Linked DNA regions of Homo sapiens. The protein of the gene in region 1 interacts with the protein of each later gene in a pairwise test. Each region holds a gene or a part of one and is shown on either strand. Other genes may lie near its edges.

Evidence for each region.
Region 2: the proteins of SH2D2A (region 1) and TENT5B interact in binary tests that used the Homo sapiens proteins (3 or more experiments, as listed by UniProt).
Region 3: the proteins of SH2D2A (region 1) and DCAF12L1 interact in binary tests that used the Homo sapiens proteins (3 or more experiments, as listed by UniProt).
Region 4: the proteins of SH2D2A (region 1) and FSBP interact in binary tests that used the Homo sapiens proteins (3 or more experiments, as listed by UniProt).

The regions. Positions count from the first base shown.
Region 1 is NC_000001.11:156,813,849-156,821,750, forward strand, and holds the start of SH2D2A (SH2 domain-containing protein 2A), read right to left. Parts: upstream 3,001-7,902; 5' UTR 2,861-3,000; coding exon 2,827-2,860; intron 2,610-2,826; exon of another isoform or gene 2,265-2,609; coding exon of another isoform or gene 2,247-2,264; coding exon 2,158-2,246; intron 1,991-2,157; coding exon of another isoform or gene 1,982-1,990; exon of another isoform or gene 1,902-1,981; intron 1,374-1,901; coding exon 1,189-1,373; intron 477-1,188; coding exon of another isoform or gene 447-476; coding exon 357-446; intron 169-356; coding exon 1-168. UniProt on the Homo sapiens protein: Could be a T-cell-specific adapter protein involved in the control of T-cell activation. May play a role in the CD4-p56-LCK-dependent signal transduction pathway. Could also play an important role in normal and pathological angiogenesis.
Region 2 is NC_000001.11:27,004,520-27,010,992, reverse strand, and holds the end of TENT5B (terminal nucleotidyltransferase 5B), read left to right. Parts: intron 1-4,035; coding exon 4,036-5,049; 3' UTR 5,050-5,973; downstream 5,974-6,473. UniProt on the Homo sapiens protein: Catalyzes the transfer of one adenosine molecule from an ATP to an mRNA poly(A) tail bearing a 3'-OH terminal group in an ATP hydrolysis-dependent manner.
Region 3 is NC_000023.11:126,549,196-126,557,781, reverse strand, and holds DCAF12L1 (DDB1- and CUL4-associated factor 12-like protein 1), read left to right. Parts: upstream 1-4,967; 5' UTR 4,968-5,173; coding exon 5,174-6,565; 3' UTR 6,566-6,587; intron 6,588-6,674; 3' UTR 6,675-8,399; downstream 8,400-8,586.
Region 4 is NC_000008.11:94,426,774-94,434,644, reverse strand, and holds the end of FSBP (fibrinogen silencer-binding protein), read left to right. Parts: intron 1-1,988; coding exon 1,989-2,514; 3' UTR 2,515-6,929; downstream 6,930-7,871. UniProt on the Homo sapiens protein: Transcriptional repressor that down-regulates the expression of the fibrinogen gamma chain. Represses transcription of GSK3B gene promoter via its interaction with APBA1.

The DNA.
Region 1 (7,902 bases):
TGTCGGGCGAGGGGCTCGGTGAGCGTCTCCCCGTAGGGGCTGAGCGGGTGCGCGGTGTAGTGCAGCAGCAGGTCCTGCAGCCGCGCGTGGGCGCTGTCCTCGCCCAGCACCACGTGGCGCCCGTCCCTGAGCTGGGCCAGCAGGAAGTGGCGGCAGCAAGTCCGGCTCCTGGAGGGCGCCGTTAGGGATCAGACTATCTCCCGCTCCTCGGCCAGGGTCACCAGCGAGAGGCGTGATCCCCACCTTCAGCAGCCCGGGGAATGAGCTAAGAGCCCGGCTCCTCACGGGATCAGACCCAAGCCCCGCCCCTCCCGAGCCCCGCCTTGTGTCGCCCGGCGCGGGGCCTCGCCCCTCACCTGTAAGTCAGCACGAAGGTCACCGCGCTCTCGCTGAACCGCACCAAGTAGCACCCCTGAGGCTTGGGCTCCAGCAGCCTCTCTGCCTCCCTGTGGGTGACGGAGAGAGGGGGCCGAACCCTGCTCTGACACTTCCAGCCTCGCCTCTGTCTCCCCGGCTCTCACGAGGAACCCCTACCCCCAAGCAAGCATGCTGGAGCGGCTAGAGAAAGGCTAGGGCGGAGATGGGGAGAGAGAGCACGTGGGCGCTGCTCTCCCGCTGCAGGGATTAGGCGTGGACAGGGGCCAGGGGTCCCATTCAGGAGACCCCCGCATCCTCCCCTGGCCTCATCCTGAAAGGGCAGCCTGCAGGGGCTGCTACTGCAGCTACAGGGATGGGAAAGTAGTTGGACTTCCAGATTTCAGAAGTCAAAGCTGAACTGAGGAGGTGAACAAAGAGTTAGGGAGAAATGAGGCTGAGAAATGGAGGAGGGAGATTCTGCAAGGGTGGAAGAAGAGAGGGCTGGGAGATAAAGATGGAGTAAGCCTGGAGGGAGAGAGAGGTGGAAAATACCAGCATTCGAGGCCTTAGGGACAGGAGGATAATGGGGCCTAGAGAGGGGAAGCTGAGGTACACAGAGGGCTGGACTGGAGCCTCTCCAATGATCTCCCCTGGAGAGATGCCTCAGTGAAAGGCTAGGAAAACTCTGGGAGTGGGAGCCTGGAGTGGGCGCCTCCATCTACTCCAGACTGGTAGAAGTGGGAGCCTTCATCTATTCCTGGCAGGTGGCAGGACCCAGACCCAGGACTTGCCCTGCCCCTGTCTGGGCCAATTTCCTCCTCCATGACTCACCTCCGGGTGATGAAGCCATGGAACCAGGCAGGGGCTGCCCCGTGCTGCAGGAGCCAGTGGGCCTGGGTCTTCTGGAACCAAGCCCGGGTCTCGGCCTGCAGGAACAGGCTTCCTTCTCCAGGCACCTCCTCTGCCCTCTCAGCATTCCCTGTGTTGGAGGCAGCCTCCGGGGCCTGGGGAGATGCCTGGATCAGGGAAGAGTTCAAGGAGGGGGAAGCAGCATGATGAGTGGGCCTTCTCCTGACTTTGATCCACCTGCCACCTTCTTTTCCTCATACCCAGCCTCTCCTGTCTATTTTAGGGTACAATTGCCCAGAAAGTCCTTCCTAAAGTCTAACTTAAATCCCTTCTTCAGCTCCAGCTGTTCTGGCTTCCAGAGACTCTCCTTCCTTTGCCCTCTGGGTCCTGAGGGCTTTTAATCCAGCAGCAGTGAGCTGTCACACTGTGCTCTAGGAGGGGCGGGAAAGGCAGCACAGCCTTCCAGATGGACAGAGTCATTCCCTGGCCTGGAGGATGAAGAAACATGATGCAGGAAGTCACCCTAGAGGCCAGAATGAGGGAGGGCTTACTTCATAATATGAGGGACTGACCTAGTTCGCAGGGAAAATTATTGACTGGGCAGGAGAGAAGGACTGAGACGGGAATGTGGAATGCACTGGGCAAATGGTCACTGACACAGAGTGCAGATGCCTGCTTCTGGGACTCAATGCACTGCACCCTGGTCATCTGCGGACTCAGCCTGAGCTTCCAGAGGGCCTAGGAGCAGTAAGGGAGTGAGTGGGCAACTCGGCGCATGAAGGAGGTACTCCTCATTTTCGTTCTCTCTCTCTGTGCCCCAGCCCGTTGGCAGACCCGGATCATTCCTGCCTTCTCTTGGAGTGGCCTTTGTCCATCTGCAAGTCCTTCCCCATGGGAGGGTGGGAGAGATGAGGGAGCTGCACCACGCTGCCGCCCCAGGTTTCCACTCACCGCAGTGTAGCCCAGGTTCTGGCAGCTCCTGCGGGTCATGTCTGTGATCTGGAAGGTGCTGAAGGTTGGGATGGGGGCTTCGTGACTCCCTGTGAGCACAAAGAGGGCTGCCGGGGTTTCTCAGAGAGGAACTATGTCTGTCTCTGCCTCCCACCCCTCCTCCCAGGCTCAGGGGATCTGGAGGGCTGGGACAGTCTTAACGACAGGAAAAACGCAGAAGGGCAGCAGGGGAGTTTCTCAGGCATGAGGTTAAGTAGCCAAGGCGGCATGGGGGGCTAATGCTGCCAGAGGAGGTTGTGAGGGACACCAGGTGCCTAGAAGGAGAGGCTGGGAGTCAGGCTGGCCTTCGGATGGTCAGGGAGGCAGATCACTTCAGGGCAGGCCCTTCTTCTGGTCCAGGATCTTCTGCCTCCTTCTCCCTTCATCCTCCTGCTCCCTCCTCTCTCCTCTCTGAGAAGCCCTCAACAAACCCTGTCACCTTTATCCTCAGGGATGAGTGGGCATGGAGCCCCAGGCAGGGTTGTGGTCACCCTGCCAATCAGCTTTGCCAGCTCTGGCTTAGGGTGGGGCCCCTCATCCCTGAAGTGGGAGCTCAAGCCCAGGAGGGAGGGCAGGGGGATGGGGGTCTTTGTGCCCCCTCCCACCCATATCCTTCAACTTCACACTTACCTTGGGGACATATCTGGGCCAGGGGGAACTCCATGAGGGCAGCCTCACAAGGGATCCCAGAGCAGGGTGTGTGTATGTGTTCCGGAAAGGTGTGCACACTCAGCAACTCATCATCTCTCCTCTCACCCTGGCCCCGGGGGCAGGAAATGTCGCCTTACCCACAGCCTTAGTTCTGGCGAGGACTCACGTCATGGAAAGCCTTAAGACGATTGTCCCACCCCCGGAAGCCACGCAGCTGTAGATAGCGGTGGTATAGCGGTGGGGGGTATCTGTGTCACTCTGTGTTTAGGTGTTAGGAAGCCCTTACTGCTGCCTGACCTTCATCCCTCCAGATTCTTTCTCTGCCCCCTCACCCCAAACTAGAACTTCCCTTTCTCTCTCTCTCTCTCTCTCTCTCTCTCATCTCTCTTGGCTTCTATTTCTTTCTCTCTGGAAAATCTCCCACTCTGCCTCTTGGCCTGTTCTGAGCAGTGGGAATGGGGATGTCAACCTCAAGGATAAGCCACACAAGGTGCTTATGGATCATGCTTTGAGGAGACATGAGGAAGGGAGGGGGCAGGGCTGCAACAGGAAGGATGTGGGTCAGACTTCTGGAAGGACTTTTTGAGGACATGTGAAATCTATGAGTCTGGGCATGGTGGCTCATGCTTGTAATCCCAGTACTTTGGGAGGCTCAGGCGAGAGAATCGCTTGAGCCCAGGAGTTCATGATCAGCCCTGGGTAACATAGTGAGAGCCCATCACTATTTTTAAAATAATAATAATAATAGTAATAATAATAAAGAAATCTATAAGACAAGGGGTTAGAGAGGAGGGGGCCTGGCTTCCATCATTCAGCAGATAATGGAGCTGAGTTAGGGCAAAACCAGGCAATATTGGAGGAAGGAAAGAGAATTCCTCCAGCTAAGCAGGTCATCATTAGTATCAACACTATCAGCAGTTGTCATTAATAACATCAGTGTTGACATCTTTTTTTTTTTTTTTTTTGAGACAGAGTCTAGCTCTGTCACCCAGGCTGGACTGCAGTGGCACAATCTCAGCTCACTGCAACTTCCGCCTCCCAGGTTCAAGGGATTCTTGTGCCTCAGCCTCCCGAGTAGCTGGGATTACAGGCTTGTACCACCATGCCTGGCTAATTTTTGTATTTTTAGTAGAGACAGGGTTTCACCGTGTTGGCCAGGCTGGTCTTGAACTCCTGGCGTCAAGTGATCCACCCACCTCGGCCTCCCAAAGTGTTGGGATTACAGGCGTGAGCCACTGCACTGGCCAGTGTTAATGTCTTAAACTTTCAATGTGCTTAGACTTCCCACCATACCAAAGGACCAATCCCATTTCTCTCTGAATTTATCTTCACAAACTAAGAAGGGGACAGGAACATTATCCCCATTTACCAGAAGCTCAGAGGAGTGCCTTGGCCAGGGTCTTTCAGTGTCTGAGAAGTTGGTGTGAGTGCTGGGACTAGAAGGTAGACTTCCTTTCACTAATTTCACTGTGATTTAGGCCAAAGGTTCATGACTATGTGCTATGCACTGTTCTTGGTACTGAGAACCCAGAGAGGAAAAAAAAAACTTTGTTTCAAGATGTCAGATGGGGGAGATGGACTTGCCAAGACTTACTGTTTTTTAAAAAATTGTGTACTGTTTTTTTGCTTTTAAAAACATGCTCTAAATTTTTAATAATTTTTGGGGTACGGTTGGGTTTTGGCTACATGGATAAGTTACCTAGTGGTGATTTCTGAGATTTTAATGCACCTGGCACCCAAGCAGTGTACACTGTCCCCAATATGTAACCTTTTATTCCTCACCCAACCTTCCCCCCAAGTCCCCAAATTCCCTTATATCACTCTCATGCCTTTGTGTCCTCATAGCTTAGCTCCCACTAATAAGTGAGAACATACGATATTTGATTTTCCATTCCTGAGTTACTCCACTTAGAATAATGGCCTCCAGCTCCAACCAAGATACTGCAAAAGACATTATTTCGTTCTTTTTTTGGCTGAGTAGTATTCCATGATGCAGATATACCACATTTTCTTTATCCACTCATTGGTTGATGGGCACTTAGGTTGGTTTCATATCTTTGCAATTGCAAACTGTGCTGCTATAAACATGCGTGTGCATGTGTCTTTTTAATAGAATGACTTCTTTTCCTTTGAATAGACACCCAGTAGTGGGATTGCTGGAAATAATGGTATTTCTACTTTTGTTTTTTTAAGGAATCTCCATACTGTTTTTCATAGTGGTTTTACTAATTTACATTCCCACTAGCAATGTAAAACTGTTCCCTTTTCACCACATCCATGCCAACATCTATTTGTGTGTCTGTGTGTGTGTGTGTGTCCGTGTTTGAGATGAAGTCTCACTCTGTCACCCAGGCTGGAGTGCAATGGCGCTATCTCGGCTCACTGCAACCTCTGCCTCCCAGGTTCAAGTGATTCTCCTGCCTCAACCTCCCTTGTAGCTGGGACTACAGGTGAGCACCAACCATGCCTGGCTAATTTTTGTATTTTTAGTAGAAAATAATGGGGTTTCACCATGTTGGCCAGGCTGGTCTCGAACTCCTGACCTCAGGTGATCCCCCTGCCTCAGGCTCCCAAAGTGCTGGGATCACAGGCATAAGCCACCGCACCTCACCACATCTATTGTTTTTTGACTTTTTAATTATGGCCATTCTTGCAGAAATAAGGTGGTATCTCATTGTGATTTTAATTTGCATTTCCCTGATGATTGTGGTGTTGAGCATTTTTTCATATGTTTGTTGGCTGTTTGTATACTTTCTTTTGAGAAATGTCTATTCATGTCCTTTGCTCACTTTTTGATGGGATTATTATTTTTTTATTTTTATTTTTATTTTTATTATTTTTTTAGATGGAGTTTCGCTCTTGTTGCCCATGCTGGAGTGCAATGGCATAATCTCGGCTCACTGCACCTCCGCCTCTCAGGTTCAACAGATTCTCCTGCCTCAGCTTCCTGAGTAGCTGGGATTACAGGCATGCGCCACCATGCCTGGCTAATTTTGTATTTTTAGTAGAGATGGGGTTTCTCCATGTTGGTCAGGCTGGTCTGGAACTCCTGACCTCAGGTGATCCACCCGCTTTGACCTCCCAAATTGCTGGGATTACAGGCATGAGCCATCATGCCTGGCCTATTTGTTTTTTTCTTCCTGATTTGTTTGAGTTCCTTGAGATTCTGGGCACTGGGTGTTGTTGGATGCACAGCTTGAGAATGTTTTCTCCCACTCTGTGGATTGTCTGTTTACTCTGCTGATTACTTTTTTTTGCTATGCAGAAGCTTTTTAGTTTAATTAGTTCCCCATCTATTTATTTTTGTTCTTGTTGCATTTGCTTTTGGGGTCTTAGTCATGAATTCTTTGCCTAAGCCAATGTCCAGAAGAGTTTTTTGGATGTTATCTTCTAGAATTTTTATGGTTTCAGCCCTGAGATTTAAGTCTTTAATACATCTTGAGTTGATTTTTGTATAAGGAGAGAGATGGGGAACCAGTTTCATTCTTCTACATGTGGCTTGCCAGTTTACTCAGCACCATTTATTGAATAGGGTGTCCTTCCCCAATCTATTTATTTGTTTATTTTTTGAAACAGGGTCTCACTCTGTCACCAAGGCTGTAATGCAGTGGCACGATCTCGGCTCACTGCAGCCTCAACCTCCCGGGCTCAAGTGATCTTCTCACCTTAGTCTCCCAAGTAGTTGGGACTACAGGCATGCGCCACCACACATGGCTAATTTTTGTACTTTTTGTAGAGATGGGGTTTTGCCATGTTGCCCAGGCTGGTCTCGAACTCCTGGGCTCAAGCCATCTGCCTGCCTTGGCCTCCCAAAGTGCTGAGATTACAGGCGTGAGCCACCACATCCAGCCCCCCCAATGTATGTTTTTGTATGCTTTGTCAAAGATCAATTGGCTGTATGTATTTGGCTTTATTTCTGGGTTCTCTATTCTGTTCCATTGGTCTACATGCCTATTTTTATACCAGTACCATGCAGTTTTGATAACTATAGCCTTGTAGTTTAATTCGAAGTTGGATAATGTGATGCCTCCAGATTTGTTCTTTTTGCATAGTATTGCTTTGGCTATATGGGCTCTTTTTTGGTTCCATGTGAATTTTAGGATTGTTTTTTATAGTTCTGTGAAGAATGATGAAGGTATTTTGTTGGAAATTGCATTGAATCTGTAGATTGCTTTGGGCAGTATGGTCATTTTCACAATATTGATTCTTACCATCCATGAGGATGGACTGTGTTTCCATTTGTTTGTGTCATCTCTGATTTCTTTCAGCAGTGTTTTCTTTGTAGAGTTCCTTATAGAGTTTTCTTTGTAGAGTTCCTTGTAGTTTTCCTGGTAGAGATCTTTAACCTTCTTGGTTAAATATATTCCTAAGTTTTTTGTTTGTTTGTTTGTTTGTTTTTGCAGCTGTTGTAAAAGGGATTGAGTTATTGATTTGATTCTTAGGTTGGTCGTTGTTGGTGTACAGCAGCATTACTGACTTGTGTACACGGATTTTGTATCCTAAGACTTTACTGAATGTATCAGATCTAGGATCTTTATGGTTGAGTCTTTAGGGTTTTCTAGGTGTACCAGCATATTATTGGCAAACAGCAATAGTTTGACATCCAGTTTGATTTCCAATTTGGATGCCCTTTATTTCTTTCCCTTGTCTGATTGCTTTGGCAGCATTTTCCTAACAGATACTTACTAAAGCTTGTAGTGAGTTAGTGGTGTAGGCTGGTGCTACGGGAACCCCCCTCAGAGGCCCCCTAATTTAGCCTGTGTGTGTGTGTGTGTGTGTGTGTGTGTGTGTGTGTGTGTATGTGTAGGGGGTTGAGATGTCAGAAGACATGAGATTAAGCTGAGTTGTAGAGGATGAGTAGGATTGAAGAAGGTGGGGAAAGGTGTTTCTAGAAGAGGGACCAAGCTCAGAGTGGTGAGGAAAGGAGAAGTGCAGCAAAAAACAGACGCAAACAATGTTACTGCATTGGCTACTTCAAAATGAGCTGCAAAGTGCAGTGGCCAGTTGCTTGGTAAGCATTTCACTTGGCAAGGAGGACTTTCTTCAGACAGGGTG
Region 2 (6,473 bases), about 130 Mb from region 1:
CTCTGCAAGAACAAGGGATACCCTGGAAGGAGGAGAAGTCCTTGCCCTGTCAGTATGGCTCAGATTGCCTCTTGGTGTCTGCTCTGTGCCAAGCCCTGTTTAGGAAACCAAGGGCACAGATGTGACTAGGACTCAGCCTCCATCCCTTCAGGTGCTCCTAGCCAGATGGGGGAGACTCCAGGTCAATAGAAGCTAACTTTACAATGCAATGGTGGTGCCATGTCCTTCTAGACCTGGGTCAGAGATAGCACAGAACAGGGAGCTGTCGGCGATGGTGAGGAAGGGCAGCAGAGACTTCAGAGCTGGGCTGGGAAGTTGGACTTCTGGATTCAGGCCCTGGACTGTTTGTTGTCAATTCTCTTTGCTGGGCTCAGTGTCCCCATCTGTTCAACTGGGATGGATAGATTAGGCTGCTGCTCTCCAACACCCTCTCTGGTTCCAGACTCCAAAGGGGACAGGTGCCTTCACCTGGTCTGTACAGCTGCCTCCACAGCGAAGAAAGTTTCTTGGAAGAAATCCACAGCTGGCAGCTTCTAAAGCTGTTGGGATGTGTGCAGGGATGGGGGCGGGGAGAGGGGGAGGGTGGTGTCGGTTGTTGCCTTGGGGCTTTTCACTGCTGCTGAGTTGTCCTATGGCTCAAAAATTGGAACCTTTCTCCCTCTACCCCCCTGCAAGGCTTTGCCTGTAGTGGCAATCTGAGTGGCTAGAGATTCTGTTCTTGCTTGTACCTGTACTAAAGGGACTCACCCTACTGTAAGGAGCCTTCCCAGAGCTACAGGCAGGGAGGCCTTTTATTGGTTGTGTAACCTTGGACAAGTCCTTTGCCTTCTCTGGGCCCAGAGGATTGAACTAGACAATCTGATTTCTCCAGCTGCAGCCAGAGGGCCTGCATCAGGCGGCAGAGCATGTGAGTTTTGTAAGCCTGCTGGCTGACGGCGTCTGTCAGTCTCCCTGCAGGTCTCAGCAGCAGCCTGGAGCAGAGTGGTTGTGGGGAGGGCCTTGGCATGGGAGAAAGGAGGGTGCAGCCACTGCCCCCTCCATGGCTGGAAAGTCTGATTCAGGAGGCACCAAGCTGCCCTGCAGTACTTGGGTGTGGTGGTATCTGGTGACCGTCTGCCAAACTGGCTGTAGTCACACCTGGGAAGGAGACAACAGCGACTGGCTGGCTGACACAGCTGGCCCCATGGCCCTGACGCAGGGGATTTAACAAGAGTACTGCTACCTACTCACTAGGCCAGATGCCAAGCCCTGGGGTGGGCACCAGCCTGGGAGCAGGAGCTGGCACTGAGTAAGGCTCAGTCAGCCCTAATGGGATCTGAGGAAGGGGCTGGTCTTCTCTGCAGGTTTGGTAGGGTCCTTGGACCAAGGTCTTTGGCCCATGCAGGCACAGCTGCCAGCTGACAGGGTGTGGGTTAGAAGTCCCACAGGCTGGACTGCAGCAACTGGCCTTGTCTGGCCAAGGCATCTCCCAACCCTCACCTTCCTGTTCCCCAACTATTCTGGCTCTGGGCTTCAGTAGCTTGAGGGTTGCCTTTGCTTTGAAATTTAGAAAGGGAAGGTGGATTAGAACACTAGTCTGCTCCTTCTGAACCCTGGGACTGTAATGTGGTAGAAACAGGATAGGCTTTGCTGTTGGCCATCCCTGGGTTTGAAGGCATCTCCACGTGATCTTGTGCAAGTGACATCACTCCTGTGAGCTTCAGTTTCCCAGGAGACCTGTCCTGGGCCAGGCACAGTGTCTCACGCCTGTAATCCCAGCACTTTGGGAGGCTGAGGCAGGGGAATAGCTTGAGTCCGGGAGTTCGAGACCAGCCTGGGCAATCTGGCAGGATTCCATCACTGTAAACAATAAAAAATTGCTGGGTGTGGTGGCACGCACGCACCTGTAGTCCCACCTACTTGGGAGGCTGAGGTTGCAGTGAGCTGAGATCGTGCCACTGCATTCACTGCATTCCACCCTCAGCTACAAAATCAGGACTCTCTCAAAAAAAAAAAAAAAAAAAAAAAAAAAAAAAGAAGGATGGAGGAAAGGAAGGTAGAGAAGGGTTTGGAAAGGCAGAAAAAAATTCCATATTAAAAAAAAAAAGACTTGGCCTGGCATAGTACCTCATGCCTGTAATCCCAGTACTTCGGGAAGCTGCGGCAGGTGGATCACCTGAGGTCAGGAGTTCAAGACCAGCTTGGCCAACATGGTGAAACCCTCTCTCTACTAAAAATACAAAAATTAGCTGAGTGTGGTGATGGGCGCCTGTAATCCCAACTATTCGGGAGGCTGAGGCAGAAGAATCACTTGAACCTGGGAGGCGGAGGTTGCAGTGAGCTGAGACTGCACCACTGCACTCCAGCCTGGATGACAGACTCAGACTCAAAAAAAAAAAGACACCTGTCCCCATAGATTCTGGCAACAAGGTCCAGTGCTCGGCACTCATTAGATGCCTAGCCTCCTTCTGCCACCCTCTGTGTTCCTGATGGCCAGCTGCTTACGCCCCATTCTCCGTGTTCCTTGTGGCCAGTTGCTTACCCTCCCATTGCCATGACAATATCTTCCCCTGGTAAAGTTGCTCCTCCCGGAAGTCTTCCTGGAGGGCGCCGCCCGCCTCTGATTGCCCCACCACAGCTTGCCTTCTCAGCACTTAGGTGCATTCTTTGTAGTAATTCCCTGGGAGGCAAGGAGAACAGCCTGGTCTGGAGCTGGGTGCTGACTTGGCAGCAAGGCAGGGTTGCAGAATCACTCAGGACAGGAATGCTGCCTGGTCACTTTCAGGACAACTTTGGGTTACTGAGAAAACTGAATGTCCCCAACCCCCAGCTTCACTCTTCTCCCTACCTGGTACCTCAGCGGAGGGACCACTTATAGGTTTATCTGTCCTGTGCCATCAGGCCTGGGGACTGTCTGAAGGCTGAGAGTTTTCACTGAGCCTTAGCTGTTTCACCACTGTAAGCCTCAGTTTCCTCATCCGAGAGCAAAAAAAGTATATAATTTTTGCCTCACTGGGTCCTTGTAAGGATGAGTTAGGATGAGTGCATTGTAGTCAAAAGGACATAGGTGAACTTGAGAATCCCAACTAACCTGGGTTCTGGTCTCAGCCTGACCGCTCTGTGACCTTGACTTTACCTCTCTGCACCTGAGGTCCTCCATCTATCAGTCAAAATAATACTCAAATGTAGGATTATGGGGAGGGTTAATGTGGTCATGAATGTGAACTGCTAACCATATTCCCAACACGTTTGAGCAGTTAGCACAGTGCCTGATACAGAACTGTTTTACTAGCAGTTTGAGAGGTAGAATAGCACGGTTAAGACTTAAACCACCGAGCGCGGTGGCTCACGCCTATAATCCCAGCACTTTGGGAGGTGTGTGGATCACGAGGTCAGGAGTTAAAGACCAGCCTGGCCAAGATGGTGAAACCCTGTCTCTACTAAAAATACAAAAATTAGCCGGGCACAGTGGCAGGCCCCTGTAATCCCAACTACTCGGGAGGCTGAGGCAGGAGAATCACTTGAACTCGGGGGACGGAGGTTGCAGTGAGTCGAGATCACGCCACTGCACTCCAACCTGAGTGGCAAAGTGAGACTCCATCTCAAAAAAAAAAAAAAAGACTTGGACTCGGAGTTTTATTCCCAGCTCTGCATTCACCAGCTGTTTGCCTTTGAGCTAGTTACTTGGCCCCTCTGTACTTCCATTTTTGCATCTGTAAAGTGTGAATAATAGTATCCACCTCACAGGGTTATTGTGAGGATTAAGTGACCTGCTGTTTAGTAAATTCTATGCAGATGTGTGCTATTATCATTGCTATTCTTCCTGAGTCATTCCTCCAGATGGGCCATTCTCAGATTAGGTTTAAAGAGTTAAATGACTCCCCCCCAACCCCCCCACCCCCACCCAATAAAAAAAAAAGTTAAATGATTTTCCAAAGGCATAACAGCTGGTTAGGGGCCAATAGTGGTTGAAGTTACCGTGATAAGTAAACGGAAGTCCTTGGTGGACCCCTGAGGCCCGCTCCTGACACCTCTCCTTCCTGCTCTCCCCTGCAGGTGGTCCGCAGCACCCTGGAGGAGCAGGGACTACATGTGCACAGTGTGCGGCTGCATGGTTCAGCTGCCAGCCACGTGCTGCACCCTGAGAGTGGCCTGGGCTACAAGGATCTGGACCTGGTGTTCCGGGTGGACCTGCGCAGTGAGGCATCCTTCCAGCTGACCAAGGCAGTGGTGCTGGCCTGCCTACTAGACTTCCTGCCGGCCGGTGTGAGCCGGGCCAAGATCACGCCACTGACACTCAAGGAGGCATACGTGCAGAAGCTGGTGAAAGTGTGCACAGACTCGGACCGCTGGAGCCTCATCTCACTGTCCAACAAGAGCGGCAAGAACGTGGAGCTCAAGTTTGTGGACTCGGTGAGACGCCAGTTTGAATTCAGCATAGACTCCTTCCAGATCATCCTGGACTCCCTGTTGCTCTTTGGCCAGTGCTCGTCCACTCCCATGTCTGAGGCCTTCCACCCAACGGTCACAGGCGAAAGCCTGTACGGGGACTTCACCGAGGCCCTGGAGCACCTGCGGCACCGTGTCATCGCCACGCGCAGTCCCGAGGAGATCCGAGGTGGTGGCCTCCTCAAGTACTGCCACCTCCTGGTGCGGGGCTTCCGGCCCCGGCCCAGCACCGATGTGCGCGCCCTGCAGCGCTACATGTGCTCCCGCTTCTTCATCGACTTTCCAGACCTGGTGGAGCAGCGGCGCACCCTAGAGCGCTACCTGGAGGCCCACTTCGGTGGGGCAGATGCAGCCCGCCGTTACGCCTGCCTGGTGACACTGCACCGGGTGGTCAACGAGAGCACCGTGTGCCTCATGAACCACGAGCGCCGCCAGACGCTGGACCTCATTGCCGCACTGGCGCTGCAGGCACTGGCTGAGCAGGGCCCAGCTGCCACTGCCGCCCTGGCCTGGCGCCCTCCAGGCACTGACGGGGTTGTGCCAGCCACTGTCAATTACTACGTGACCCCCGTGCAACCTCTCCTGGCTCACGCCTATCCCACCTGGCTGCCTTGTAACTGACTCAGACCCTGGCCAGAAGGGAAGGGACTGGGCCTCACGGGGTGGGGTGGGGCCTCCAAGAGTGTGTGGAGGACATGACCAGAGGCGCAGAATGTGCCAGGAGGCCCAGCACTGCAGGGTTGGGCCTTTGATTGAACAGACCAGACTTTCCCGAGCACGAGGCCCCTGTGGGCTTAATGCCAGCCTGGGGCTCTCAGCAGGAGGACCCTTTGGTTATTGCATCACACTTTTGGACCAGCATGCCGGTGGGGTGCAGGCGCCATTTGTCTTGGAAGTCAATTTCCTTCAGGAGACAAAGCAAGTTTGGGGTGGTAGCCTTAATGCCCAGCACCTTGGATTGATTCCCATGGTCTAAGAGGGTCTTTTTGACTAAGGCCAGCCTGTGGTGATCCCAGCAGCTTTGGAGGGCCTGCAGCCCACACACTGACTGATACATGGTATGTTACAGGGACTTGTCACTTTGGATCAGGCTGGGCCACTACAGGGCCTGATGGGCCAACTTGGGTAATCACTGGGAGGAGGGAAACTGAGGCCCGAGGCAGATACCTGGGTTTGGGGAGGGCTGGGTTTAGCCCGGTTCTCTGAACTACATACCCCCAGCTGTGAAGCCTTCCTCTTGAGGGGTTGAGGTGGGCAGTATACAGGAGCCAAGCAGCCCAGGGTGGGTCGCAGCCCAGGCCCCTTCCAGGGTGCCACTCCTTTCCCCCTTGTGTTGCAAGGAGCCCTCCTGCCTGGGAGCTTGTTCTTTGGAAGGTGCTGAGCCTGAATTTGCCACAGTCAAGTCAACGTTCCCACCCCACTGGCTTGGTTACAGGGCTCTCACATGGGGTAGGGGAGCCATACTCCCACCCCCTTGCGTATTCCCCTGGGTTTGTTGATATTTTGCACTCTTAACACCTGCCAATAAAGACGGTCTACACTGAACCTTAGTGCCATGCTTCCTCTGGGGAAAGAAGGACCTTCCGTAGCAGTGGGGGTTGCAGCTGCCTCCCCCAGTTGGAGTCTGGCTTGTACTGTGGAAGGGAGCATTTGCGGGGGCGGGGTTTGAAGCCTGGGCTATGGCTGGGGGACTGCCCCTCCTTCTCCCAACCCCAGCCGCAGCCTGACCAGCTGTATATTAAGAGCTGCTGTCTACATGTGTGACCTGCACGTTGCCTTAGCAGGTCTAGGGCTCTTGTTAAGGAGTAAATATTTTTATGTTTTCTACCTGGAATCCAAATAGCTCTGGGCCTAGACTCAGACTCTGGTGCTCAGGGGTACTTGTTCCCAGCTCTGTCTACCCCGTCTCTTCCAAGGGAGCAGCTAGAGAACAGGCTGGGTGAATCTGGACTGGAGGCCCCTCCAGTAAAGGTGGCTGAGACTGGGGAACTTGTAGGGTTCCCCCTAAGCCTGAGCCCAGGTAGGGCCTCTATTTGGGAGAGGCT
Region 3 (8,586 bases), on another chromosome or scaffold:
TAGACACATGTAATTTATCATAGTATACTGTTATCAGTGTTTTAGCACTTTGAATGAGGTGTATAGACCTTACTTTCTATAAAGTCCTTTTATTTCCCATACTTTAAAATATCATTTTCTTAAATATTCCTTCTACATACATTGAGTGCTATATCAGATAGTGTCATAAGTTTTCCTTCAATCATCAAATATGATTTAAGAAACTCATGAGAAGTAGAAAAGCCTATTATGTTTAATTATGTTTTTACCCATTTGATATTCTTCTTTTCCTTTTAAAATTCCAAGTTTTCTTTTATGAATACCTTTCTGCTTAGACAACTTCCTTTAGCCATTTTTCAAGGGTTGTGTATTTTTTTTTAGCAACAAATTCTTTGTTTTCCTTCATCTGAGAATGTCTTTATTTCACCCCATTCCTGAATAATTTTGCTACATGTGGAATGTGTGGTTGGCATGTTTTATTTCAGCACTTCCTTCTGGCCTTGTGGTTTCAGATAAGAAATCTGGCGTCATTTGATCTGGTTTTGCCCTGTAGTTAATGTGCCATTTGTCTGTTTTATTTTATGATTTTTTTTCAGAGATTTAATTATACTGTGTCTTGGTGTGGATTTATTTGGGCTTATACTATATGTGTTCACTTAGTTTCTTGAATCTGTAGGTGTATGTATTTCATTATTTCTTCGGAGCAAGACTTAGCCCTACTTCCCACCTCCTTATTCAGTCCTTTTTCCTGCTGAGTGTGTGTAGAGGTTCAGTTACCGCTGACACCAGGAGTCAAGGATGGTGGAGAACTGACTAGCTCTGAATCTCACTGCTTTATTCAGACTCATTGATACTAAATGTGAATGGAAGCTCAGCTTGTCACTGAGCCTTACTGAAATTGGCGAAGAGGAGGGGTGTGAAGCATAGTGGTGATGAGCCACTTCTCAAACCTTCTCCTTGCTGACCAGATGTGAGTGGAGGCTGAGTTTACTACTGGACCACACTGACACTACCCCTGCAAGGAGTATAACACCTACTTCTGCCATGGAGAGAATGGAAGACCAGCTCCCTACTTGGCCACACACTGAAACAGTCTGTGGTAGAGTGAGGTAGGGTAGTTTTTCTGTTGATGTTTAGCTGCAGTAGGATGGGTATTGCCAAAAAAAAAAAAATGCTTTTCTGCAATTAGGCCTCTGTTTTCCAGATCCTTTGCCTATGGACAACAGGCTATTGTTGGAGCTTTTATTATCTTTGCCTATTCATGGTTCTGGGTTAGAGCCTCCTGCAACTTTCTGGCCAATATATAAGGGACACAATAAAGACACCCAGGGAACTCACTACCCCGAATTTCCTCAAATTCTGTGGTCCTTTGTTCATCCAGCTTACTTTCAACTTTCAGAGACTTCTTAAAGTTGTGCTATGTCCAGAATTTTTTCAGTTTGAAGAGGGAGGACCTTGAAAGAATGGGTTTACTCTGTCTTGGCCAGAACTGGAAATCTCTTTTCTTCTATCTCCATGATTTAGACATTTATAATATCCACCCTCCACCACTACAAACAGAAGAGCACTGCATTATGACTTGGGGACAGTGTTAAGTTTCTAAGGGGTTTCCACTCTACTATCTGTGGTACCTCATCCCCCAGAGCATAGAAATCCCTCTCCTTTTGTAAGCCTTGGGTAATGGATATTATCGTGTTTCATGAAAAATAAGAGGAATATATAGCACATTTCTTTACTTTCCTAAGTCGAATGGCATTTGAGTTCAAGCTACACACACTTGGCTGGTAGAAAGGCCAATATCAGTAAAATTTCAAAAGTTCCTTCCTTTTTCTATGGGATCCTATTAGACTTGTGATGCTTACTTGGTCCCAGGAAAAATAAGTTGATTGTGGTCCTTAGTTCTTCTTGTTTGTTATGGATACCCTTACTGTTCATCTGCTGCAAGATGACATCAAGATGACCTACACTGGTCCTTCCTGCTCCTGTGGAGCAGTTCTTTTCAGCAGGACTTGACACTAATCACAAAATGAATCTCCAAACCCCTGACAGCTGGCTTAGTGTTTTTACTCCTAGTACCCAACTTCAACAGATGTTCCATAGTCATATCCCATCATCTGTGCTGCAAGGAAGTGAGGCGTATCAATCACTAGCAGAGTCTTTTACTCAATCCCTGGAATTTCTCCAGTCTCTGGGAAGTGAATAAGAACATGGAATATGGAATCAAGCTACTTGGGATGACTTAATAATTCATTTACTTTGGACAAAATCATAACCTCTCCAAGCCTCAATGTCCTCATATGGGGCTAATAATATTAGTGGTTACCACTATTATAAGGTTGGATTAAATGAGACAATATTTGTTCTTGTGTTACCAGTAGAGGGTCTTGACTGCAACTTGCCCAGGCTCTTGGCATTCTGAACAAATAATTGGACAAAACACATAGCAAAGCAAGGAAAGAATGAAGCAATGAAAGAACGAAAGCAGGGATTTATTGAAGATGAAAGTACATTCTACAGTGTGGGAGCGGGCCCCAGCAGCGACTCAAGGGCCCCGGATACAGAATCTCCTCGTGTCCAAATATGCTCTGGAGGTTTCCCAATGGCTACTTGGCACTCACCTCATGTAAATGAAGGGATGACCCACAATCAGTCTGATTAGTTGCAGAAAGTAACCAATCAGAGGCTGAAGTGAAGTTACATCGATACACTCCTATGCAAACATCTGACTGGTTGCAAAAAGCAACCAATCAGAGGTACTTTTAATTTCCCATCTGAGGACGCAGAAAAAGTGGGGGTATGTAAAGGGAGTAGCCTCTGGTCCTTTTGTTATTTAGGCGTGGAAAGTTAGGGTTTCTTTTCAGTTTAATTCCAGGAAGTCAGCGTGAAAGGGCCTTAGGTTCCCTGCCTCCAGACCCTATTCTCCTGCCTCACTTGCAGCAATGCCTGTTAATATAACAATATAGTAAAGGTGTAAGGCAATAGTAAAGAATAGTTAAGTTCTACATGCATAATAGGTACAATTTTCCTCCCTGGGCCACTCTTTGCTCTGACATCTACATCATCATAATCTTTTTAATTCCCAATTCTTGCACAATATTCACCTGGATAAGGCCCATTTTCAGGGTAACCCTGAAGTACATGAAGATATTTATCTCCTCCTACCTGCAACACATCCTGTTCCCACCTGAGTGAGAGGAGTGTAGACCAGTGTTTCTCAAATAATTGTCCACTGATCATTTGCATCAAATCTTTAGGGATAGAATCAAAGGATATGCACATCTATTAAGCTGCTCCTGAGATGTTAATGTACACTAAAATTCACGAAACAATCCTTTGCACTATCTGTGCCTTTTCACATATGGTTGCCTCTTTCTAAAATGTCCATTCATCCCATTTGTGTCCACGTGTGGAAACAAAATGCAGCTTCCTCTATGTACCTGTCCCTGATTTCATGTTCACTATTACCACCAGCAGATGCAGCCTTTCTATTGCTATAGGATGAATGATATGGGGAGGAATCAAAAGTGAGGTGCAAGGGAGTGTTGGGGTACACTGGAAGGCAGCTGCTGGATTGGAGTGGTGAGAAGGACCTATGGCTTTTACTTGGAATTTGTGCACTTGAGGCGAAGTTGCAAAAAGGGATGGGGGAAGGGGACAGAAAACCAGAAAAATAAAGAGGGGGTTGGGGAGAAGCAGCAACAAAATAACTCTTATGGTTTTCCCTGATCAGGAAGTAAATTAATCACCGCAGGTGTCAGCACCCCACACCCTCAGGCCGGCCTGCCCACTCGCCTGCTCTTCCCACTGCCTCAGCCCCTCCCGCTTGGCTTTCCTCGTGGATCTGTCCACACACTGACTTTGTTCTCACTGCCCTCTCTCCCCAATGTATCACTGTGTAACTGAAATCACTGGGTAACTGAGTATGCCCCGTTTGCGCCTGCCACCTGACTGGCTGCTCTGAAGCAGCAGAACTGGATAAGAACTTTATGAACTCTGAGAAGTTATTCATGCACAGAACCTCTAAACTTGCATCATTGTATCCACGTTGTTGCCTTCTTCTGGAACGTTATGTTCTCTGCACGTGAAAATCCTCTGCCTCTAGACCCTGTCCCAAGGTCCCAGGGACTCTGCTTGGGCGCCTCTGGGACTGACAACAGGGATATTAACTTTGCTTCTCAGGAGTGGGGAAGAGGTCCCCCTCTCAGGATCCTTCCACTCCCTCTCCTTAGGGCTCTGAGGCTCAAAGGAAGCAAACACCTCCAAAAAGCCCCTCAGGATTCCTCCCCCATTAGTACAGCCTACCATTTTCTCAAGGCTGCACCAAACCAAGTGTTCGCTGATATCACCATGGGCCAAATGTGGGTCCCAGGGATTTGCATTTGGATTGTACTCCTCAAGGGACTGTGGCAGTAGCTCAGAGACCTCAATTTGAGGAGGGAAAAAATATTTGTTTGAAACTGTTTAAGACATCAACTGAGGGGCTGAAACTTGAGGGGTTGCAGGTCTGACATATGGGTAAAGGTCTCCCTGCGCTGCCGAATCCCCCATCCCTTGCCAAGTTTAATGTCTAATCTTAGCGAAGGGTGTCCCAGGATTACACCAAGTGCACACTGGTTTCTCCAGACAGATCGTGGCCTGGGCTCCTTCTAGCCCCGTGCTTGACTATATCGTAGGTTTCAGATTTTATTGAAGTAGGGATTTTAAGAAGGGTAGTTAGCTGTTGTCCTGAGGGTAGCGAAATGCCGCGTGTCTGATACTTGGGATCCTGGCTTGCGGGCCCTCCTAGACTCTGCCCTTGCAGCTCCGCTACCCCCTCCCCTCCCTGTCCCTCCCAGCCTTCACCCCGCCCGGCCTCAGCTACTCCTCAGGCACCCCACGCGCTCACAACCGCCTGCCCGACCGCCTGCTCCTCCCACTGCCTCCGCCCCTCCCACTCGGCCCCCCGCGTCGATCTCGCCGCACGCTGACTTTGCTCTCACTGCCCGGCCAGACGCACTTCCCGCCTTCGCCTAGGTCTGCACCGCCACCGCCGCCCTCTCCCGCGCGTCCCTCACCCGGTCCGCCACTGCCGCGCCTCAGAATCCGAAGGCTCGGTTCCAGCGCAGCCATCCACGCCGCCGCCACGACCGACTCCGGAGCCACGCGCTGCAACCGCCACCAACGCCTTGCCGCCGCCGCTCGCCCGCCGCCCACCATGGCCCAGCAGCAAACAGGTAGCAGGAAACGGAAAGCGCCCGCGGTCGAGGCGGACGCCGAGAGCTCGCCGTCGCAGGGCTTGGCGGCAGCGGACGGTGAGGGGCCGCTGCTACTCAAGAGGCAGAGGCGGCCGGCGACGTATCGCTCGATGGCGCACTATCTGAAGGTTCGGGAGGTAGGCGGGTGGGGCCCCGCCAGGCTCCAGGGCTTCGATGGCGAGCTGCGGGGCTACGCGGTACAGAGGCTGCCCGAGCTGCTGACGGAGCGCCAACTGGAGCTGGGCACGGTCAACAAGGTGTTCGCGTCACAGTGGCTGAACTCCAGGCAGGTGGTGTGCGGCACCAAGTGTAACACGCTTTTCGTGGTGGACGTGGAGTCAGGCCACATCGCGCGCATTCCCCTCTTGCGGGACAGTGAGGCCAGGCTGGCCCAGGACCAACAGGGCTGCGGCATCCATGCCATCGAGCTGAATCCCTCCAAGACGCTTCTGGCCACCGGCGGCGAAAACCCCAACAGCCTGGCCATCTACCAGCTGCCCTCCCTGGATCCCCTGTGCCTGGGCGACCGCCATGGCCACAAGGACTGGATCTTCGCCGTCGCCTGGCTGAGTGACACCGTAGCCGTGAGCGGCTCCCGCGACGGCACTGTGGCGCTGTGGCGGATGGACCCGGACAAGTTCGATGACACTGTTGCCTGGCATAGCGAGGTGGGTCTCCCCGTATATGCCCACATCCGTCCGAGGGATGTGGAGGCCATCCCCAGGGCCATCATCAACCCCAGTAACCGCAAGGTGCGGGCCCTGGCCTGCGGCGGCAAGAACCAGGAACTGGGAGCGGTGTCCTTGGACGGCTACTTCCACCTGTGGAAAGCCGGGAGCGCACTATCCAGGCTGCTGTCCATCAGGCTGCCCTACTTCCGGGATAATGTGTGCCTGACCTACTGTGATGATATGTCTGTGTACGCCGTGGGCTCCCATTCCCACGTCTCTTTCCTGGATCTGCGCCAGGACCAGCAGAACATCCGGCCCCTGTGTTCTCGAGAGGGTGGCACAGGCGTGCGGTCGCTGAGCTTCTACCGCCACATCATCACTGTGGGCACCGGTCAGGGCTCCCTGCTCTTCTATGACGTCCGGGCCCAGAAATTCCTGGAGGAAAGAGCCTCCGCCACCCTGGAGTCCTCTTCGGGACCTGCAAGGAGGAAGCTCAGGCTTGCCTGTGGCAGAGGCTGGCTCAACCACAATGATTTCTGGGTGAATTACTTTGGTGGCATGGAAGTGTTTCCCAATGCGCTCTACACCCACTGCTACAACTGGCCTGAGATGAAGCTCTTTGTGGCTGGGGGGCCTCTCCCTGCAGGCCTCCATGGGAACTATGCAGGCCTCTGGAGCTAAGGATGACCGCCTTGTACTCCAGGTACACAGATTTACCTTTCAGTTCCGCCCGACTGCCCTTCATGCTGCATTTTTTTGCTTTTAACTCTGTGCGTCTTTTGTTTTCCAGGTGGAACCAGCCCAGCTTAATTTGTACTCCTCCAAGCAGAGAGAGTGAGTGGTCCTTTGGTCAATGAAAACTTGGCTTTAAGACTTTTTGACTCCTTTCCAACACCATCTTTTGGAATTTTCATACAAAGAAATTTGGTTAATCGTTAATCTTTAGTTGCATTCTCTCTTTGAGTGATTCATACATTCTGTTTCTTTAAGAAGATGCAGTCATGGTCTTTCAGTTATGTATATTTGTTTTCCTTGTTTTTCCTCGTTACCAATATTACAACAGCATTGTTTTCAGTTATTTTTCATTGCAGATACGAAGAGAAAATTTTCTAGTAAGCAAGGTGTTCCTACATCTTTTCTGGAGAGCTTACCATAGTTTTATAGCATTGTTCAATTGGAAAAGTACATTCCAAGTTCTAGATTACCTACGTTTGGAAACACTTAATTTACAAATTGTGATCTTAGTGTATATAGTTTTTACGTTGTTGGTGCTAAAGTGCTTTTTTGAAGTTTATTCTCTTTCAAAATAAGTTATCATAGAATCTTGTGCTTGTATCAAACTCCTAATTGGTCGGAACACTTTAGGAGTGCAGGGGTTCTGCTTCATTGCATTTTCAGAATTAACCTGAAAGTTGAAACAACCATTTTTTTTTATTTCAAAACTTATTTAAGTTGTTATCACCTGTCCTTAAATAGATAAAAGAATGTGTATTTTTTCACTTGTTGCCTTAGTACTATCAAGACTTGTGAATATATTTGAATGTATGTTGTTTGAAAAACTTGCACAGGGCATTGGAGCCATCATGAAAAGCAGGAAATGTAAACGTGGAATGTATGGCAGGCTGGGCAGAATGTATACTGATCCAGGGTATAGACTAGATATTTTTGCTGTTGCTGTTTTTATTATAAAATGTTATATTTGAGGATATTTAACATTTTCCAATTCTGCTTAAGAGGTAATTCACAATAAAAAAAACAAAGACCAAAAATAGCACATTCTGAAAAAAAGATTCTTAATAAGATTTTATTTTGTGAAGTTCAAAGATTCTTTCCTAAAGTATAACGTGTTGTTAAAAAGTAGTGGTGTTATAACTCTCAATGTAATAGTATGCAATATCAAGAACACAGGAAGTTCGTTTCAAGATAGGTGAGATTTAAAATAAATAGGATGAGGTTGAAGAAAAGTATATTGGAGCGCAGATAAATATAAATTGTGGACTGCTATGAAAACAGGTTGTACTTCTCCATATGTGAGACTACTGGAAGTGAGAAGCAATATTTGTCATTTCTAAAACTGGCCAGGCTGTGCTGACCCAGGATTAGTAATTTGTTATGTCTGTTTTCCCTTAGATGTTTGGGCACTCAGATGCTATCTTGGTGCACACACACAACATTGCTGTTCAGTCACAAATCCGAACAACTTAATATAATAAATTGTACTAAAAGTCATTTAAGAAATACCAAAAAGTAAGCTTTTGTTTCTAACCATTGTTATAAAGGCTAATATAATTGTTGTTATATAGCAGTAAGATATATTTGTGTGCATGCGTCTCCAAGTCAGTTGTAAATGTCTTGAGAACAGAGAATACAATTGTCATCTTTATATTGCCTCATTTCTCCACTAATACTTAGCAAATAAAAGGCAATAAGTAAATATGTACTGGTTGAATGCCTCTGGAGACCTAGAGTTTAAAGTTTTAAGTCAATAAATAAATAAATATTTACTCTTAAATAATATAGAATCCTGTTGTGTTTTCCCCCCTTTTTTGGTAAACTTTGCCCTGATTTATTTCCAGGTCAGGCTATTGTGCTTATCCATTCATAAACTTACCCATATGTGATACTAGCAGAGGAAAGAACATGTATAAATCTTAGTTGACACTGGAAATTAATCTTTTCACCTGCAACCATTTAGGTTTGAA
Region 4 (7,871 bases), on another chromosome or scaffold:
AGAAGTTTATAATTATTCTATAATCTTAACTATACTTCTACATAAATATGCCTGTTAATCTTACCAAACTCTTCCTTTTTAATAAGGAAAATACTAGTGTTTGCGTTAACATACTTAAAAATATATACCTGTTTTGTAAGGCTATTTATTTTCTGTAACTCACATTGACTTATGTCTTTATTTTTACCTCTTCCTAATATCAGTTTATATTTTGTGTTTTTGTAAACTGATCTTCAAAGTTCTGATTCTCAAGTCCTTCTCTGTCATTTTTGTGACCTGCTCTAAAGCTTTTTTTCTCCCTTTTTATATTGTTATGCCTTAGTTGTAATGTTTTAGCTAAAATGGAAAGGAATGTTCCAGATATGAGGCATATTTTTAATTTACTTGGTAGTATTATGTCTATGTTTATACTCTCTATTTTACATACTAATTTGAAATAGTAATTATGTGGTTTTAAAAACTTAATTTTCATATGCAATTTTAGCCTTTTCCCATTCCAGGTTTTAGCAGAGCTATTAATAGAAGCAGAGCTTGCTACTTTGAATTACATTTATAATTAATTGTTTTGTTTTTGGAAATAATAAAATGACACAAACAGAGACAAGAACAAAAATGAATTTATATAACCTACAAATAGATTTTTTATTATATACTATATATGTTTCATTTTGTCTCTTAGATAAATATCTGATATTTCTGGCAATTTAATGGCATTAGTAAGTAACGTATGGGTAGTTTTAATCTTTTTCTATGCATTCTGCTTGAACTTGTTCCAGCATTTTAATCATCCATGTAGAATGTATTCTTTTAATTATGTTTCTTATTATATGTAAAATCTTCTCTAAATAATATTAAATAAAGTATTTCCATTCATGTTCAATGATCTAATTTCCCTTTATAACTTTTATTTTTAAGTTAGGCAGAAGCATAAATTAAAAAAAACAACCTCAAGGAGCAGATATTCTTAATTCACAGCTTCACGTTATACATAAAATTATGTTTATAAAACAGAATTTTAAGGTTTATTGCATTTATAATATCATAACTTGTTATGCTGAAGCTTAAATTATGCTAAAGCTGTAGTTGTCTCCATTGGGAATGCATATTTGGTGGAAATTATGTGTAAATTTAATAAACCTTTAATATATCTGTATAGGCCATTAAAAATGTTTCATTAAAAAATCATTTAGTTTGTTTTTTTTCAGTCATTCAACACATAATGAGCACCTACTAGGTTCTAAGTACAGTACCTGCTAGGTACTGAGTATACAGTTGTGGATTAAAACCATTGCTCTTGTGAACTTTACCTGACCAGTGATTGAAAGACTTAAACAGCATCTGAGTCATATGGTTCAGAATAGGTAAAACGGAAGTTTTTCCTATCAGATAAAAGCATCTGAAATAAGAAAGTTAGGATAACCTCCAGTAGTTGAGCATATCCCAAAGCCATATACAATCTTTATGTTTTATTTTTTGGGCAAATGCAGAAATCAGTACCTCCCATAGATGGCCTTTCACTGTCCTTTTATAAGTTATGGGCCTTCATGGTTTTAAGATCAGTCCAGGAGAGCAGAAGCCTGAGGTCTAGGGCTAAGGTATGGGGATAACAAGACTGAGAATGCATTAAATGGCTCTGTACACCATTTGAAAACCTTAGGGTTGTGGGAAAGATTGGTGTCTGTTTGACAACATGAAAACTGGCTTTTCTTTTTATTTTCTTCATTGGCCTTCTATAATATTTGTAATTTCCTGCTCCTTTAAAGCACAATTTTAAAGTTAAGGATGGGGGAGATCTGTGAGTATGTATTATTGAAATCCCAATCTTAGTCACTTTAATGTATTTCAAGTGTTTAAGATTTTTTTTTATTTTGTAACTTTATAGTTTTAAAGCTTTATCATTTAATGTACATTAAATTAAAATTATGCTATAAATATACACTTTTTCTTCATTTGATTTACATATTATAATGCTTTTTTGTGTGCTATAGTGCAAACTTGGATGAGGAGGCACAGGCTGGTACCAGTTCACTACAGGTAATGTTGGATCACCATCCTGTTGCTATTACAGTGGAGGTGAAGCAAGAAGAAGACATTAAACCACCTCCTCCACTGGTTTTAAATTCTCAACAGAGTGATACTTTAGAGCAAAGAGAAGAACATGAATTAGTACATGTTATGGAAAGATCCTTGTCGCCTTCACTTTCCTCTGTTGATATGAGAATGACATCGTCTCCATCTTCTATTCCAAGGAGAGATGATTTTTTTCGGCATGAGAGTGGTGAACACTTTAGGTCACTATTAGGGTATGATCCTCAGATCCTGCAAATGTTGAAAGAGGAGCATCAGATAATTTTAGAAAATCAAAAAAATTTTGGATTGTATGTTCAGGAGAAGAGGGATGGATTGAAAAGAAGGCAGCAGCTAGAGGAAGAGCTACTAAGAGCAAAAATTGAAGTGGAGAAGCTGAAAGCAATTCGCTTACGGCATGATCTACCTGAATATAACAGTCTCTAAGTTTTTTTTTCAATCTTGCAATTTGATAATTTTGATTTTGGCCAAATTACTTTAATTTGGGAATATCCTGAAACAGAATACACGTTCTTGAAAAATGTTGTTAATCTCTATTATGGAAAAACTTTTTAGATATAATTTTCTAATTATTTTCTTTTGAGATATTAAAATTTACTGGTTGGTTGGCATGGTTATAGTTTTTATTGTCTTCTTTTTTTTTTCCCTAAGTTTAATTGTTGACCTTACAAAAGATATTTTATTCTGATCACTAAGATATACACAAATGCATATACAAACACATATTCTTTCAAAGTTCTGAGTCTTCAACATTTTTAGTTAGAACTTTGAAAGCTATAATTAGAGATTTTTAAGTCAGTCTAATTTAGGAGCTATACTAACCTAATACCAAGAAGCTTGTCTGTATGACATTGGTTTTTATGCTTTTATCTTTTGAAGGAGTAAATCCTAGGATTTTAGAGATGGAAGATATTTGGAGAACACTTTTTTTCCATCTCTGCAGTTTAGGGGTAATGAAACAGGTCCAGGGAGAACTCAATGACTTACTTAGGGTAACAAAGCTATTTATGGCAGAGCAGAGACCAGCACTTAGTTTTTCTTTGTGTAATTTCCATCCCGCTATTCGATAGAAGTAAATATCCACTAAAACATTCTCTAGATTTAAATATTAGAAGCATTTCTTTCATTAAAATTGCCTTTAAAGATTGTTAGGTTGTGAAATCAGGATAATTACATCAATTACCCCCATTCTCTCTCTATTTTTGTTCCAGCAAAATAGATAAGGTATTCCATTGAAGCTATTATATATTTTGGCTGTGTGATTTAAAGACATGTCTTAATTCATTTTGAATGTCCTGTTCTGGAAAAAATTTCTTTCACAGTAAAAATCAGAATGAACAAAATTAAAATTTTATGTATTTTATAAGTATTGTTATTTTAGTATTCATGGAAATAAAACCTCAATTCTTAAAGCATACATATTAAATTTATATTAAATCTCTAATATGTATGTTACTTAAGAATTTCTATTTTTGCTGGGGTTTTGTTGAGAAGGGATTTTTAAGCCAAGTTGTAGAATGGGGTGGGTGTAATTTCAGCAGTGAAGGGGACCATGGGTGTTTGAAGTCAAGAGTGAGACGCTGGAAAAAAGACAAAAGAATGGGAAAAAGTGGATTGAGTATATAAGCACAAATGCAGTGCTAAGCCATTGATTTTAAGTGAATGTAGAGAGAGTCAATTTGGGCTGTAGTATCCTGGACTAGGAAGGACATCTCCCTGGACTAGGTAGGGTAGCTGCTGTTTAGCTCCAGCAGAATTTTCACATGCGGGGATAAACCAGAAATCTGCATTTTTTAATGAGGAATCTTCCAATTTTAAAATGTTTGCAAATAACACAAAATGCTTTTAAAACATTATACAGACAACATGTGAGTGGGCCTCACTGAGCCATTGGGCTTCCACTTTGTGGCCTTTGGAGTAGACCAATGGTTTTCCAAGTATGGGTCCTGACCAGCAGCATCAGCATCACTTGAGAACTTGTTAGAAATGTAAATCCATTTCCAAGTGAATTAGAAACCCTGGGGGTGTCAGCAATCTCTTTTAATAAACCCTTTAGCGATTCTGATGCATGCTAAAGTTTGAGAACCAGTGAAACAGAGTATTTTGGAACCTCGCTTGGTGCCTAAATCATACTAGTCTCAAAATTTTTGTCGAAGAGTAGTTGAAAGTGAACTGAGGGATATAAATTTGGATGATGGTTGATACCAGATTATGAATTACATTAAATACTTTTTTTTTTTTTTTTTGAGATGGAGTCTTGCTTTGTCACCTAGGTTGGAGTGCAGTGGTGCGATGTTGGCTCACTGCAATCTCCGTTTCCTGGGTTCAAGCGATTCTCCTGCTTCAGCTTCCCAAGTAGCTGGGACTACAGGCGCACCACCATGCCTGGCTAATTTTTTGTGTTTTTAGTAGAGACGGGGTTTCACTGTGTTAGCCAGGATGGTCTTGATCTCCTGACCTCGTGATCTGCCCGCCTCGGCCTCCCAAAGTGCTGGGATTACAGGCTTGAGCCACCGTGCCCAGCCTAAATACTATTTTTAATGAGTCAGACTTAACGTACAATGAGAAGCCATTGAATGCTTTGAATTAGAGGGCTAATTTGATTATAGTTGTGATTTAGGAGGAGTGGCATTTAGGGACAGGCATTGTATTGGAAGAACTTAAATCAGAAATTTAAGTTATGGCTATAGAAATAGAAAAAAATGAACTCAAGGTACTATTTTAGCATGTTGACTACTTAATTTCATTGGTTGGATTAAAAAGAGGGTGTTTTATAGCTGGTAGAGTTAACTTCTTTAATTATAAAGATGTCCTGAATATATAACTTGATATATCCTTTTGACAATGTTACCTTTTCTCTTTAATCTGTGCTATGACTTTTCTTTGAGTCTAATGAATCTTGTAATTCTTAATTTGAGGTAATGTTTCCCAGTATAATTCTAGTAAACACATCTTGGCAGTAGTAAGCTTTATTTTTTGAAATTATTGAAAGCACATATATGAGATGTAATTCACTTTACAGTTTCAGCATGCTACTAAGAATTGATAATGAATGTTCAATTTAAATGTTGGCTTTTACAGCAAATCAGAGTTTTCCCAAGTGTGTTCTGTGGAACATTAATTCTGTGAGATGTTTCTAGAAAAGAGATCTGTGTTAAAAAAAAGTGCAGTATACATCTTTTTTATTTTTGGTGGTTAGGTTCTAAAATAATTGTGGAAGGTAAAAATTATGTATATACAAAATAGCCCTTGAAAATTCCTTTGCTGCCCATAAAATAGCATAAACATAGTCTGCTACAATCATATTTTTCTGCAGCATTGTTTAAGATTGCTTTTTCTTTAGTGTGTTAGGTGACACAATTCATTAGCATTTAGGGGCTGTATACAATAAGAAACCTATTTTTACATATTTTTAAACACCAGAATCACACTCTTTGAGTTTACTGCAGCAACTTTTCCAAGTCAATCTTGTTTTTCTCCAAGTCAGTCTTGTTTACTTTTAATTTGCAAAAGTTTAAATGCATATAATTCTCCTCATTGTCTACCTCCCCTTGTATAACCATGATTAACATAGTATAGTTTATGAGAATTCCTGTATAAAGAAAATTATTTATTTGACCATAGAATCCTTTTCCGAGGCTGTTTATTATCTTACAGAGTATCTTAGGGTAATTTGGAACCAAACCTTTTTTTTTCTTCTTTTTTGTATTGAGACTTTTTTGAGTTAGGGGACTACTTACCAACTAACATTAGCAGTTTTTGTTGAGGACAAGTTTCATTAAGGGGAATATATAGGGGAAAGTTTGCTAGTACAATGGAATGTACACTTGGCTTTCTATCTGCAGGTTTCACATCTGCAGATTGAACTACTGTGGATTGAAAATATTCAGGCAGAAAAATAAATAACAGTACAACAATAAAAAGTAATACGAAATTTAAAAAGACGGTATAACTGAGGTAGGAGTTGGGCTAATCCCCAGTTTTGGGGCTCACTTGTCCTGTATCCTAACAACTATTTACATAGTATTTACATTATATTAGCCATTGTAAGTAATCTAGAGATGATTTAAAGTATATGGAAGGATGTGTGTAAATTGTATGTGAATACAAACATTTTATATAAGGGACTTGAGTATCTGTGGATCTTGATGGGGTAGGGGGTGTCCTGAAACCAATCCCCCTTGGATACTGAGGGATGACTATACACTTAAGCCACCAGACATCTTGCATATCATAGACAATTGTTTGGGGTCCATGAGCTTTAATTACAAAATGTAATGCTGGGAGAACATAGAGAAGAGTGATTTTGTTTTTTAAATGTAGACTTGATTCTGTAGAAATATACTACATTTGATAAATATACTAAGTATATAGATTATTTCATCCAATATATTAGTAATTTAGATAGTGGATAGCCACTTTCCTATCTTTCTCTTATCCATATGAATGTAATGGATATGTTGTTACAACTTATGATTTTCTAAACTAGCTGTGATTTATAATGACATCCTGAGAAAAGTCAGTGAAACTCATTTCTAACGAATACCAGATTTCTTAAAATAGTCAAGTATTTTTCTTTTGTGTATGATGAGATATTAACTTGGTGTTATTTCATTTTTTTTTTTAAGGAGTCATTCTACCCTGTTCTATCTTTACTTATGTGAAAATGTTTAAACTATGAGTTTTTTTCATGTGCCTTCTTTTGGAGTAATGTCAACTTTTAAATACACATGTTTAAATAACTTAGAGTGTAATAAATTGTGTTTAATATATACTGTAGATAATGATGGTTAAATGCTTTGTTAACACATGTTCTTTTAAATACAAGATACTACTTTGTACTGATTTGTGTACTTTTTTTGTGTGCCGTTAAGACAAATAATTCAGTACTGTAGAGGTAAAATTTTTTGATGAGGTATAATTGAAATACATTTATTTAGATGATTATGTTATAATAGATGGCCAATGTACCATATCTAAATATCACATTTCATTTCTTTTTTCAAATGTTAAGAGCCACAGCTTCTCAAAATCAAATATTTGATGGTGAATTTGATTGTAAACACTTAAAAGTAATTAGATGAAATATGGTTGCATACTTAAACAAGAGTAAGTTCTTAGAATATGCAATCTAATTAAACATTAACAGTCAAGCAAAATCTTTGTATACGATTTTGAGAAATTGTTCAATATATTTTTATAAATCTTTTATATTGATTAAAGCTAGTAGTTATAATTTGAACATATTATTTATTTTTAGTTTCCAATTGCTTTGTAATAGTGGAAAGCAAAATAAATGAGTAAATAAAAATAAAAATAAAAATATCGCTCATATCAGTCCTGACAACTTAAACTAAAAGGATATATCATTATAATTCCACTTTGCTAGCAGGTCTTTTTTGTTTTAAAATTTATGTGTGAATTCACCTCTGTTACAAAGTTTTTTTTCCCCTAACATTAAGAAACCTTTCAAACATACAGAAAAAGTGAAAAGATAGTTATAGTAAGTATCCATATATCTACCACATAGATTCTGCAATTAATGTTTTGCTATACTTGGCTTCATCACCTATTTATCCATCAATTCTTTTTTTTAAAGGAAAAATGTTACTTCGAAACAAGTTGTAGAGTTAGAATAATTTACCCTTAAGTACTTCAGCATGAGTATTACTAGAGTTCACTATTTATTTGTGCATGTGTGTTTTTTAGGTAAGATTTGCATACAGTGAAATGCACAAATTTAAAATATACCATTTGGTGAGTTTTGATCTACAACTGTGTAG